Linked DNA regions of Homo sapiens: all the other regions are linked to region 3. The links come from fine-mapping of genetic effects on gene expression. A gene starts in region 3. Each other region holds a variant in brackets. All regions are shown on one strand. Distances are from middle to middle.

Region 1 (4,241 bases), 43 kb after region 3:
AACGTCAGGCTTGGGATGTCTTTATAACCTGGGTACCTATGGACAGTTCACTTAAACACACTGAACCACAGTTTTCTTAGATCTAAAATAAACCTGGTGAGTGGATTTGGTTTCTGCTTTGAGTCTCAAGTTTCCATCTGTAAAATGGATGGATTGTATTCCTCAGGGATGGCAAACTGGGACCAGAGGATCTCCTGGGCCCTGGGTTCTGGATTTGCCTCTAATGCCATCTGCTCTGCAGGCTCATCCTGGGGATGATGGTGACCACCTCGTTCTTGTCCATGTGGCTGAGCAACACCGCCTCCACTGCCATGATGCTTCCCATTGCCAATGCCATCCTGAAAAGTCTCTTTGGCCAGAAGGAGGTTCGAAAGGACCCCAGCCAGGAGAGTGAAGAGAACACAGGTGAGGCTGTGCTAAGGGATTGGGGCCAAATCCACCAGGATTTGGAAGTGGGAATGGGATGTCCAAAGGATGTTAGGGAAGGCCAAGGGCATGCACACTTATTGAGCACCTACTATGCGTCAGGTGTTTTAGTTATGACAATGACTGATAATTAGATAAGAAATCATGGTACCTTGGTTGTTTAAAATTTGCATTTATTAAGCACATACTGTATACTGAGCAGTGAGTTGAACTCTTTACATACATTATCTTCCTTAACTCTCAAAACAGCTCTATGAAGTAAGTACTATAATTAAACCTTGTTTTACAGCATTCAAAGAGATGCTCAGCATCACCAGTACTCAGAGAAATGCAAATTGAAACAATAACATTTTAATCAATGAGACAGGCAGAAATAAGGAAGCTGATGAATCCCCATGTTGACAGGAATAGGGGCCACAGGAACTTTCGTGTACTGCTAGAAAGAGTGTGGACTGGGTTAGAGTTTCTTAAGGATCTTGTGCAAGGATTTAATCACATTAAATGTGTTTATACTCTGTAACCCAGCAGTTTTGCTCCCAGACACCAAAGGAATTCTCCTATAGGTCCAGGAGGGAACGCACATAGTGATATTCACTGTAGCGCTCTCTGTGGTGTGGGAAGTTGGTGGCTACATGCACTTTATTGCTAGTACAGGCAAAGGCAAATATGGTGGATACATGCCATTGAGCATTATGCTCCTTTTAAAAGAGAGAAGAATTAGTGAACCATGTACTTCTATAAATGGATCTCATAGAGCAGTTATGATTGGAGGTAAAAACCAGAATGAGATCTAGAATACAACCTCAATATGTAAGCTGAAAATACACATGAACGACAAAAGATTTTGTAAGCAATGTATGATGAAAAGCTACACATTAAACATATCAGAATGGTTGCTATGGAAAGGGTGAGAGTGGGAAATGGGGAGAGAAAGGACTAAAAAGACCCAATCAATTATAGGAAAGAGAGGCTTTGTGAAGTAAATAGTGATAACGTATTATGAACGGAGGGATTTGATTCCCTCAATCCTCTGAAATTATGTTCTTAATAAAACAAAACATACACAGCCATTGTATTTTTAGGTGACTACATACAGTCTCCAAGAGGGAAATGATTTTCCCAAATTACACAGTGAAGTTAAAGAAGTCCAGGATCAATTCAGAGGCACAATGACGTCATGATTTTTCATTGGCAACTCTGGTTCCCCTGGTCTTATGGTTGCAAAGTGGCTGCCACATCATGTCACTTTAAAATGTCTTACTTTTAATTTACATAACTGTATTTTAAAAGGAAGATTTGAATTGATACATATGTGGGCAGAAATGGCTAGTTTAACCCCGGCATTGATTCTTCCTTTGTTCTTTTAGGAATAGAACCCAATACTTTCCTCTCTGAGGAAAGGCTGAAACTTCAAGCTCCCCTTGTGATAAGACTTGGTCAGATAACTGAGTCTGGTCAATGGAATATGAGTGGAAATGATGTGTGCAACTTCCGGGTTCTGTCCTTCCTGCCGGGTGGAATGTGAATATGATGGCACCTGGGACCCAAAGACAGGAGCCACATCTTGAGAGATAGATGGCAGATCTGCCCCTGTGGCTTTGGATCATTTACCTCAGTGAACACAACAAGCATTATCCATGAAACCATAGGTTTTGTGTGCTAGTTCTAGTTTTTAAAATATGAATTAAATTAAATACGTATCTGTTAAAACTTAAATGTTGATCCGTGTACCATCTAAGTTAATCTCACTGACAGTCACATGAGTATTTCCCCGTCATACACTAAGGGGTCCTGCTTATTTTATTTTCACAGCAACCCTGAACACTAGAAATGATTATATGTACTTTACAGATGAAGTTTGGAGAGGTGAGATGATGTGTTGAGGATCATAGCATTGGCAAAGTGGCAGAGTCAGCTCTATGCAACGGCAGAGTCTTCCACGAGGAAGTGAAGAGAAGCTTTATAGCATGGATTAACAAACTTTGTCTATAAATGACCAAATAGTAAATACTGCAGGCTTTGTGGGCCACTCTGTTGCAACTACTCAACGCTGCCCTTGCAGTGAGAAAGCAGCCACAGATAAAACAAACAAGC[A/C]GGCGTGGCAATGTGACAAAAAAATTGTATTTATGGGTGCTGAAATTAAAATTTCATATAATTTTTGTATCAGGAAATATTCTTCCATAGATGTTTTTCAACCATTTGAAAATGTAGAAGCCATTCCTAGTTGGCAGGCCACACAAAAACAGGCGGTGGGCTGGATTGGGGCTGCATATTGTAGGTCACTGACCCCTGCTGTACAATATTGGCTTTCTTGATTTTCAAACTGTTTCCCTTAAGAGAACTGCCTGATGGTCACCCTGGGGTGGCAGCAAGCACCTGGGACTCTGCCCTTTTCCCCATTTCAACCCTAGTTAGACTCACTTTATTCATTTTGTACACTGGGCCTCTAAGCAATAATAACCAATGTTTACTGTGCACTTAGTTTATGCGCGGACTCTTAGGTGGACCTCATATCTGAATGAGACGGAGCAAGCATCGACCTCATTTACAGAAATGGAAATTGAGGAAGGAATTAAAAAGAGTCCTCCCACCCCCCGTTACGCAGTTTCCAAACTGTGGCTCTGGTATTTTGAATCCGGGCTGGCTGACTTCAGAGCCTACATTCTCAGGCTCCATTATTCTGCCTCCCACATGAGACTTTTTCCAAAGTGGTCAAGCAAATGATTGAAAGCCAAGTCCCTCATTGTGAGAATGAAAAATCTGAGACTCAGGAAGGGGAAGGGACTTGCCCAAGGCCACACACAGTGGTGGCCATGCATTGAAGTCCAGAGCCTTTTCCTATGCTGCAGGATGTCAAGAGGGAGGGGATCCTGGGGGTTGGGATAGATACCTACCTTTACAGGCCATGGGATCAGGGAGGAGCAGGAATTGGTTAATGATCAGCTTCTAAGACCTAAAACAAGGCTAATTCCAGTACAAAGAGAGCTATTCCCTTTCATCCAGTTCTGAGCTTTGACCAGGTGGCAGGAGGCGAGGACAGGGGTGGAGGGAGTAGAGATTCTGCCAGTGGGCTAGGAGAGGCACAAGGAAGTTCCTAGGAGCTATAGGTTCATGAAGGACATCTGTAGCACCAGCAGCAACCATAATCATCATGTGAGCTGAGCTCCCATTTTCTGAGTAACCACCACATGCAGATACCATGCTAATTTTTTTATACTCATTAGCTCATCTGATCTTCATAATTGTACTAGGAGGTAATGATGCCCATTTTATAGATGAGGAAACTGAGGCTCAGAGAAGCAAAATGATTTGCCCAAAGTAACACGATGATTTGCTGAGCTCTGTCAGAATCCAGAATCTGTGCTTATAAGCACCTTGCCATGGTGCCTGGTACAGAGGAGGCAGAACCTAGGGCAGGGTGGGGCTATCTGGATAAGACTCCAGAGGTCCTCAGACTTGGAGGGCAGCGCTGTTGCCTTTCTCCAGTTCCTTTGCTCAGTTCTGTGCCCTGCACTTCCTGGGGGACCCAGGGGCCATGTGAGTGATGGCTTCGCCAATGTCCCCCTGCATGCACGCTCTCATTAGGTCCTCCACCACAGCCCTGTGGGGAGGCACTATTAGCATGCCTGTTTTACAGATGAGGAAACTGAAGCTCACAGCCATGATAGGCCCAATGTTCCTTGGCCAGTAAGGGGCCCACCTGGATTTTGTTTTTGTTTTTTAGAGACAGGGTCTTCCTCTGTCTCCTAGGCTGGAGTGCAGTGGTGCATTCAGCTCGCTGCAGCCTCAAACTCCCAGGCTCAAGTGATCCTCTA
Region 2 (4,241 bases), 89 kb after region 3:
GACGGAGCATAGAACCCAGCCAGGTCTGTAAGGGGCAGCTTTTGCTGGAAAAGACACTTGTAAATGACACATTCTTGTAAACTTTGCTTATCATCAAAATCAAAAAACATTTTACATGCAAGGGGGTGATTTTAGAGCTTTTTGAGAAAATAAATATGCTTTGGGTTGCAAAAATTCCCTAGAAGGCCCAAAAATATCCTATTTAAGTAAAACGCCATAAAAGTGATCAGTATGAATTGTAGGCAGGAGAGGTGACAAACTGGTGGCCCACTAGCTGAGGCCAGCTCATAGGGGGGTTTGATACACACAGTCTTAGAAATTTGGAAGAGCTGCCAACAGATGCTCTCATGAGCTCTCTTTCTCACTGAAATCCAGGGATGCCCCCAACAAGAGGTATCCAGAGGCCAACTCTGGGTTGAGATTGTTTGGCTGAGGGAAGGAGCAGGCAGAGGAAGTATTTTAAAGCCCTGGTTCTCAGTGTACAGTCCTTAGACCAGCAGCACCGGGGGAACACGTCAGGAATGCAGATTCTTGGATCCCACCCCAGACTTGCTGAATCAGCAATTCTGGGTGAGGTGGGGCCAGCCATGTGGGCTTTAACCAGCCCTCCAAGTGCTTTTCTGCACTCTCACATTGGAGAAGGAGTGTTCTAGGTACACCACCCCAGCCCATCCCTGATCAAACCACAGTGTGGCCCTTGAATGTCACTAACCCTGGGAATGTTCTCTCCACCTCTCTCTCGATCTGGTTCTCTTCTTACCTGCTTGTCTCTGTTTCTGCCTGTGCATGTGTCTTTCTGACTGCCTTTCTCTCTCTGTCTCTCTAACTCTCTCTTCTCACTTGTCCCTGTTGTTCTCTGCCACTCTGCCAATCTCTATGGATGTCTTTGTCTCTCTGTCTCTACGTCTTTGTGTCCCTCTTTCCAACTGCCTCTCTCTCTCTCTCTCCCTCTTGCTGTGGTCGCTCTGCGTTGGTCTCTCTCCGGGTCTCTCCCACCTTTTCCTGGCCCAGGCCATCCGCCTGAGAGTGCACCCCCTGTATCTGATGATTCCGGGCACAGTCGGCTGCTCCTTTGCCTTCATGCTCCCGGTCTCAACGCCCCCCAACTCCATCGCCTTCGCCTCTGGACACTTGCTGGTCAAAGACATGGTGAGTCTGGGCATTTCCCAGCAGAGGCCCCGGGATGTGGGTGGGCCGCAAGGGGGCGGGCAAGGCCTCTATGCAGGACTCCTGCACGCTGACCCCACTCCCCAGTCTCTGAATAGATCTTTCTGAGTGGGACCAGGAACATACATTTAGCAGAGACTCTGGGATGATTCCTGCACTTAGACAATCTCAGGAAACACTGCCTTAGTGACTACTTTCCAAAATTTGCTCCAGAGGCAAGGAACTTCCCCTTCCCTCTGGACCCCACTTCGTGCCCAGAATCTTCGGGGGAGAGAAGCAGCAGACACACCCTAGGACTCAGGGGTGGGCCTCAGTGCTCAGCCAGCTGGGAAGGAGACAGAAGCGGAGGACTGTAGCAGTGGGAGGACCCCACCAGCTTTCAGCAGGGCCCAGCCATTGGCAATATGTTCCCTCCCCCGGAAGGTCCCTGCTGAACCAGCTCCTCCCTTCCCGCTCCTGACTCCTGCGGCCTTTTCCCTCTCCACTGGCTTTGCAAATAACCCTTCCAAAGCTGTCAAAGCCAAGACGGGCGACCTGCTTAACCAATCGCGATGCAGGCCCTCCAGGCACAAGACCCCTGCAGGACACATGGGGAGAGAGAGCGAGAGTGAGAGCGAGGCAGAAAGGGAGACACAGAGCAAACAGAGAAGAGACGAGACAGAGACTCATT[G/A]ATTTGTTCGTTCATTACAGCACTATTTACTGAGTGCATTCTATGTTCCAGCCACTGGGGGCACTGCAGAGTGGGAGAGACACCGATCCGCCTCCTAGGAGGCTGCTTTCTATTGGTGGAGACAGACGTGAACAAGTTCAGCAGATTTTCCTAAATTATGTAAAATTTCAATATTGCTAGGTGCTCAGAAGGAAATAAAACATGAGGAAGTGTAAGAGGACGGGGGAGAGGGGTGGCAGGGAAGCCCTCTCCAGGAAGGTGACATGGGAGCTGATGATCATGGGAAGCCGCCAGCCTCACAGAGAAAAAGGGGAAGAGCAGTCCCAATGGAGGGCACAGCAGGTACAAAGGCCTGGAAGAGAGGAATAGCAGCGAGTGCTCCAGAAATTCAGGGCCAGGAGGCTGGGGTGGCTGCAGTGGAGTTGGAGAAGGATGAGGTTGGAGACACGAGGTCAGGGAACAGCGGGGACAGGACAGACTTGGTATCTTATTCAAACCACAGTGGGGACCCTCGGTAAGCAGGGCAATGATGTGATTTCACTTCTGTCTGTAGAAGATCATTTTGGCTGCTGGCTGGAGTGAATCGTTAGGGTGGGAGGGACAAGTGTGGAAGCAGGGAGGCTACTTAGAGAAAAAGACTGAGAGGGCAGCAATGCAAACAGCATAGATTTGGAGAATAAAGACAGCCAGAGAAATGGAGAGTCCCCAAGAGGTAGAGACTTGCAAGAGATGTGGAGGGGTACAAGGGGCACCCCCGGTCAGCCAGTCCCGGGCAGGGATGGCCCACCTGCAGGTTCGCTCCTGAGAGTAATGAGTTAGGTGTTAATGAAGTAGCTAACATGGGACCAGCAGGAATTTTGAGCCCTGGCAAAGGGAGACCCAATCCTCCCCCAGTTTCCCCAACATGTCGGCCCGACTCCCTCTAATCCTCCGAAGGTGCCAGGGCTTCCACCTCTGTGCCCTTAGAAGAGAGGCAGGACAGCACACGCAGTATGTCCCCCACCCGTCCGTGGTAATATTTATTTAACACCTTTACTAAATCAGCTTGACATTAAAAAAAAAAAACAAAAAAAAACTTGAATAAGAATATTCCAGAAGAAATGTTTCCAGTGCATCCATCAATGGAAAACCGGTATTATTAATATATGCCATGGCCAGTAAACCTAAAAATAAATGCAAAGCGGCAAAAACAAAAGAATTAAGCTCTCCCTGATAGCAGCTGCCTGGAGAAGGTTCTGGGCCTCTCCTTGTTAAAAGGGCAACTGACAGGAGCAGAGAAGTGCTGAAGCCATGGTGGCCCCTGTGAACCCCAAAAATCTGAGACAGGTCTCAGTAAATTTAGGAAGTTTATTTTGCCTAAGTTAAGGACATACGCCTGTGACACAGCTTCAGGAGGTCCTGACGACATGCACCCAAGGTGGGTGGAGCACAGCTTGATTTTATACATTTTAGGGAGGCATGAGACATCAATCAACATATGTAAGATGAACATTGGTTTGGTCCGGAAAGGCGGGACAACTCAAAGAGGGCAGGGGGCTACCAGGTCATAGGTATATAAGAGACAAATGGTTGCATTATTTTGAGTCTCTGATGAGCCTTTCCAAAGAAGGCAATCAGATATGCATTCAACTCAGTGAGCAGAGGGATGACTGAATAGAATGGGAGACAGGTTGGCCCTAAGTAGTTCCCAGTTTGACTTTTCTCTTTAGCTTAGTAATTTGGGGGCCCCAAGATTTATTTTCCTATCACACCCCTAAGAGAGACTTTCTCTGGGAGGAATAGACAGAAAGAGAATTAGAAAGGAAGTAACTGTCTCACCATGTGATTCAGCCTGGGCTATGTGAAGGCGGGGCAGCCAGAAGACCCAGGTGGGAAAACAAGGATTTTCAGCCCAAGGTGGACTGAATGGTCCAAGAGGCCAGCCAGGGTAGGGAGCAGATGGGCACATTCTCCACCGACAGAAGAAAAATGCTTCCCAATGGACAAGGGTAGTCTTGACTAGGACTACCTGACTGGACTGGACCTGAAGTGTGTGTGTGTACCTATGTGTACATATGTGTGTTCCTACATGCATGCGTGTGTGTGTGCATGCGTGTGTGTATATGTGTGTGGGATGGGGGTGTTTAGTGATCAGACAAGATTATTTTCAAGTTAGGTGACCTTGGACAAGTCAACTTCTCTAGGTCTCATTTTTCTCTTCTATAAAATGGGGATTAATAAGAATGACCTTTGTAAGGTTGCTTTCTGGGTTAAACAGCATAACCCTGTGACAACTGCGTAGCACACAGTGCCTGGAACCTAGAGGCCATCAATGAATGGGGACACTTGCAGCTCTTTGAGTGACAGCCTAGGGTAGTGTAAAGATTGAAGGGTCCCAGGCATTTACCGACCTGGGTCTGTGTCC
Region 3 (4,241 bases):
ACCTTATGATCCAGCAGTTCCACTTCTGGGTATATACCCAGAACTGAAAGCAGGGACTCAGACAGATACTCTTTGTACACCTATGTTTATAGCTGCATTACTCACAATAGCCAAACGGTAGAAACAACCCAATGTCTATCAACAAATGAATGGATAAACACGATATAGTATATCCATACAATGGAATATTATTCAGCCTTAAAAAGGAATTATGACACATGCTACAACATGGGTGAGCCTTAAGGACACAAAGCTAATCACAAAAGGATAAATATTCCATGATACCGCTTGTATGAGCTATCCAGATTAATCAAATTTATAGAGACAGAAAGCAGAATGATGGTTTCCAGAGGCTGTGGGAGGAGAGAATGAAGTTATTTTGTAATGAATACAGTGTTTCAAAACTGTAAAACTTCTGACAAGCTTGTCCAACCTGCCTTATTTTGTTGTTGTTCTTTTTTTGTTTGTTTGTTTGTTTTAAGCTTTTAGCAGCCTGAAGCCATGGTTTTTAGTTTCTGTCTCTAGTGATGAGTGGAAAAGAGGGATGAGGAAGGGGCTTTACTGGCCCAACCAGAAACAGAAACTAAGAACCCATGACTGTATTCTCTTCCTTGGACACTTCTGTGAGAACAAAGCAAACTAAACATACGAGAAACTCTTTGGGGTCTAAGGCTATGCAGAGAGCTTAACCCGATCATCCAAAGGAAAAATTTGATAAATTTAACTACATCAAAATTAGAAATGTTTGCTTGGTGATATATAGTTAAGAGGCTGAAAAGACAAGCTACAGACGGGGAGAAATATTTGCAAACAGCGTAACTGGCAAAGAACTGACATCTAGAATTTGCAAAGAACTTTCAAAACTCAACTGTAAAAAACCAAATAATACAAGTAGAAAACAGGCAAATGACAGGAAAAGATAGTTCACCAAAGAGGATATAGAGATGGCAAATTAGCATGTGAAAAGATGTTAAACATCACTAGCCATTAGGGAAATAGAAATTAAAACCACAATGAGCTATTACTATGTCCCTGTCAGAATGGTTAAAATAAAATAAACAGTGACAACACCAAATGTTGGCAAAGATGTGGAGAAACTGGATGATTCATACATTGTTGATGGAAGTGCAAAATAGTACAATCACTTTGGAAGACAGGTTGACAGTGTCTTAAAAAGCTAAGCATTGCAAATACTGGGCAACCCAACAGTTGCACTCCTGTATGGTTACCTGAGAATAATCAGAAGTGAATAGAAGTGACTCACCCCCCTTAAAAAAAAATAAGAATAACGGCCGGGCGTGGTGACGCACACCTGTAATCCCAGAACTTTGGGAGGCCCGAGATGGGCGGATCATGAGGCCAGGAGTTCGAGACCAGCCTGGCCAAAATGGTGAAACCCCATCTCTACTAAAAATACAAAAAAAAAAAAAAAAAAAATTAGCCAGATATGGTGGCACACGCCTGTAATCCCAGCTACTCAGAAGAATTGCTTGAACCCGGGAGGCAGAGGTTGCAGTGATCCGAGATCGCTCCACTGCTCCCCAGCCCAGCCTGGGTTACAGAGTGAGACTACATCTCAAAAAAAAGAAAAAAAAACCCAAAAATAAGAATAACTCATCAGCAGCAATAACTCTCATTGAGCACCTGCTCTGCCAGACACTGCGCTAATCACATTACATGTGTTATCTCATTTAAACTTCCTAACAACCTTCTTGTCTGGTGTAGACTATTTTTAAAAATTTAACTTTTAAGTTCAGGGGTACATGTGCAGATTTGTTGTATAGGTAAACTTGTGTCATGGGGATTTGTTGCACAGATTATTTCGTCATCCAGGTATTAAGCCTAGTGCCCATTAGTTATTTTTCCTGATCCTCTGTCTCCTCCCACCCTCCAGCCTCCCATAGGCTTCAGTGTCAGTTGTTCCCCTCTATGTGTCCATGTGTTCTCATCATTTAGCTCCCGCTTATAAGTGAAAACATGCGGCATTTGGTTTTCTGTTCCTGTGTTAGTTTGCTAAGGATAATGGCCTCCAGCTCCATCCATGTTCCCGCAAAAAACATGATGTCCTTCTTTTTTGTGACTGCATAGTATTCCATGGTGTAGACTATTATTATCACCACTCCACTTTCAGGCTCAGAGGCTGTTGTTGAAGGCCACGCAGTGAGTAAGTGGCCGTGCCAGGATTTGAACCCGGGTAATAGGAGTACGCGCCTTAATCCTCGCCTTGTCATCCTCAGCCATCTCACAGGCGAGTAAACAGAGGCGAGGAGAGGATAAGCCAGCTGCCCCAGGCCACATTGCTGGGAAGCCAAGAGGCAAGGCCACACTGCCCTGCGGCTGGGGTCCCGTTTGCTAATTCTAGTGCCTAACTTTCTCCAACGTTCCCGGGCCTCTTTCACCCGGTCCCAGGGGCGCAGGCACCACCCTTTTCCTCCAGGAGGAGCAGGGAGAGGGCGGGTTCCCCAGCGCAGTCCCCTCCCCGACCCTCCCCCAGGCTTTAAGCCGGCGCCGGGGCCAGGCGGGGCAGTCCCGGGCCGGCCCGTACCGCCAGGCGATCGCGCTGATGGCGGCGCTGGCAGCAGCGGCCAAGAAGGTGTGGAGCGCGCGGCGGCTGCTGGTGCTGCTGTTCACGCCGCTCGCGCTGCTGCCGGTGGTCTTCGCCCTCCCGCCCAAGGTAACGCCTCCTCCGCCTGTGCGCCCCCGGTCAACCACAGGCGGGATCCTCTTCTCCCAAGCCTCCAAGTTGGGAGACCGCTGAGGTCCCAGTGTAGACAGGCTCCACCAGACCCCCTCGCCTTCCCTCCCTTGCACCTGCCGCGGACCGCTGTGAACGCTCCTAACGCCTCTTCCCTCTTCCCAGCTGCTCCTTAGAGCTTGAGTCCCACCCTGCCTTCTGGATCTCACTTCCATGGGAATAATTTCGTTTCGTTTCAGTGACAGGTTCTCGCCGGTCACCCAGGCTGGAGTGCAGTGATGTGATCATAGCTCACTGCAGCCTCCAACTCCTGGACTTAAGCGATCCTCCTTCCGCAGCCTCCCTAGTGGCTAGAACTACAGGTGCATGCCCAGCTAATTTTTTTTTAATAGAGATAGGGTCTCACTATGTTGTCCAGGCTGGTCTGGAACTCCTGGACTCAAGCAATTCTCCCACCTTGGTCTCCCATATACTGGGATTACAGACGTGAACCACTGTGCCTAGCAGAATTCTTTCTTTCCTGAGCTCTAATTCTGTGCTTGGTGCTGTATTGCACATTTCACGCGACAGTCACAATGAACACTTACTGGGTGCCAAGCTGTGTGACATGGTGCAAGTCACTTAACCTCTCTGAACTTCAGTTTACTCATGTGTAAAAATGGGAGAAATGATAGTGCCCACCCATAGGGCAGCGGTGAATATCAATGAGGCAATATATGTAAATCTCTTATAACTAAACCTTGTACAGAATAAATGCCCAATAAGCAGTGACTGGTCTTTTTCTGCACCAGGTCCTTACGTGATGAGGACGGTAAGATTCATGAGTGCTTACTACGGGTGAGGATTTGCCTTTTGTGTATCACTTTATTTAATCATTTCAACGCGTCTCAGAGGGGAAAGATTATTTGACCCATTTTCCAGAGGAGAAAACCAAGGCTCGGGGAGAGAAAGTGACTTGCTCAGAGTCACACAGCAAGTGACTATGTCGGTATTCAGTCCCCGGCTTGTCAGAATCCAGAACCCTAGCTGTTTTCAGTCTCCCCAAGGAAGTAACCCCTGTAAGATCAAAGGCCGCAGGTGGAGTTCAGGAGTCATAACTGAAATCAACACTAGTGGGGGCTGGAAGGAGATGGTACCACAGGTCCCTTTTGGGTTCTTCACCTGTGCCCTGCCCAGCCCAGCCAGGGCATCATGAGAGGGCACTGGGCTTGTAAGATAAGGCTTCTACCTCCAGGAAGTTGCTTCACCATCTCTCAGTGAGGTATTAAATGTTCACAAAAATAAAAGTAAAGAGGAGGTATAATTTAGTGGTGCATTACCCAGCACCGATCAGCTGAGACCAGGGAGCTTCTCCTGGAAGAAGGAGCCCTCCTTGGGCACATGGAGTAAGAAGGTGACACCAGTGGTTCCAAGGAGACCCAGGGCTAACACACAGCAAGTTCATTAGTGTGGAATTATCTAAGCTATTAGACTTTCTCGACGTGGAAGAGAAAAACACAATAAATGATGGAAGAAGGATGAGGTCACCTTTGCAAAACTCAGCCCA

Which allele goes with the higher level. Alleles are on the strand shown, and positions count from the first base shown. SD is a standard deviation of normalised expression in the study named. Not every link is listed here.
In carriers of allele G in region 2, the expression in prefrontal cortex of the gene that starts at base 2,526 in region 3 tends to be higher than with A alone (small effect, 0.33 SD a copy in CommonMind).

Evidence for each region. PIP is the estimated chance that this variant, and not a neighbour inherited with it, causes the effect. A credible set is the group of variants that fine-mapping cannot tell apart.
Region 1: its variant is the best candidate, but not a certain one, in a credible set for the expression of SLC13A3 in nasal epithelium (TOPMed, PIP 0.63).
Region 2: its variant is the best candidate, but not a certain one, in a credible set for the expression of SLC13A3 in prefrontal cortex (CommonMind, PIP 0.56).

What each region holds. Positions count from the first base shown.
Region 1 is chr20:46,606,610-46,610,850 of GRCh38, reverse strand. It overlaps SLC13A3 (solute carrier family 13 member 3), which reads left to right. Exons shown (of 13, transcript NM_022829.6): 3 at 242-405. Among named protein-coding and RNA genes, the nearest start is that of SLC13A3, 43 kb to the left of the region's middle. The variant A/C (reference allele first, on the strand shown) is at 2,521.
Region 2 is chr20:46,560,322-46,564,562 of GRCh38, reverse strand. It overlaps SLC13A3 (solute carrier family 13 member 3), which reads left to right. Exons shown (of 13, transcript NM_022829.6): 12 at 1,012-1,149. Among named protein-coding and RNA genes, the nearest start is that of OCSTAMP, 12 kb to the right of the region's middle. The variant G/A (reference allele first, on the strand shown) is at 1,838.
Region 3 is chr20:46,649,744-46,653,984 of GRCh38, reverse strand. It overlaps SLC13A3 (solute carrier family 13 member 3), which reads left to right and starts at 2,526. Exons shown (of 13, transcript NM_022829.6): 1 at 2,526-2,674. The coding sequence starts at 2,564.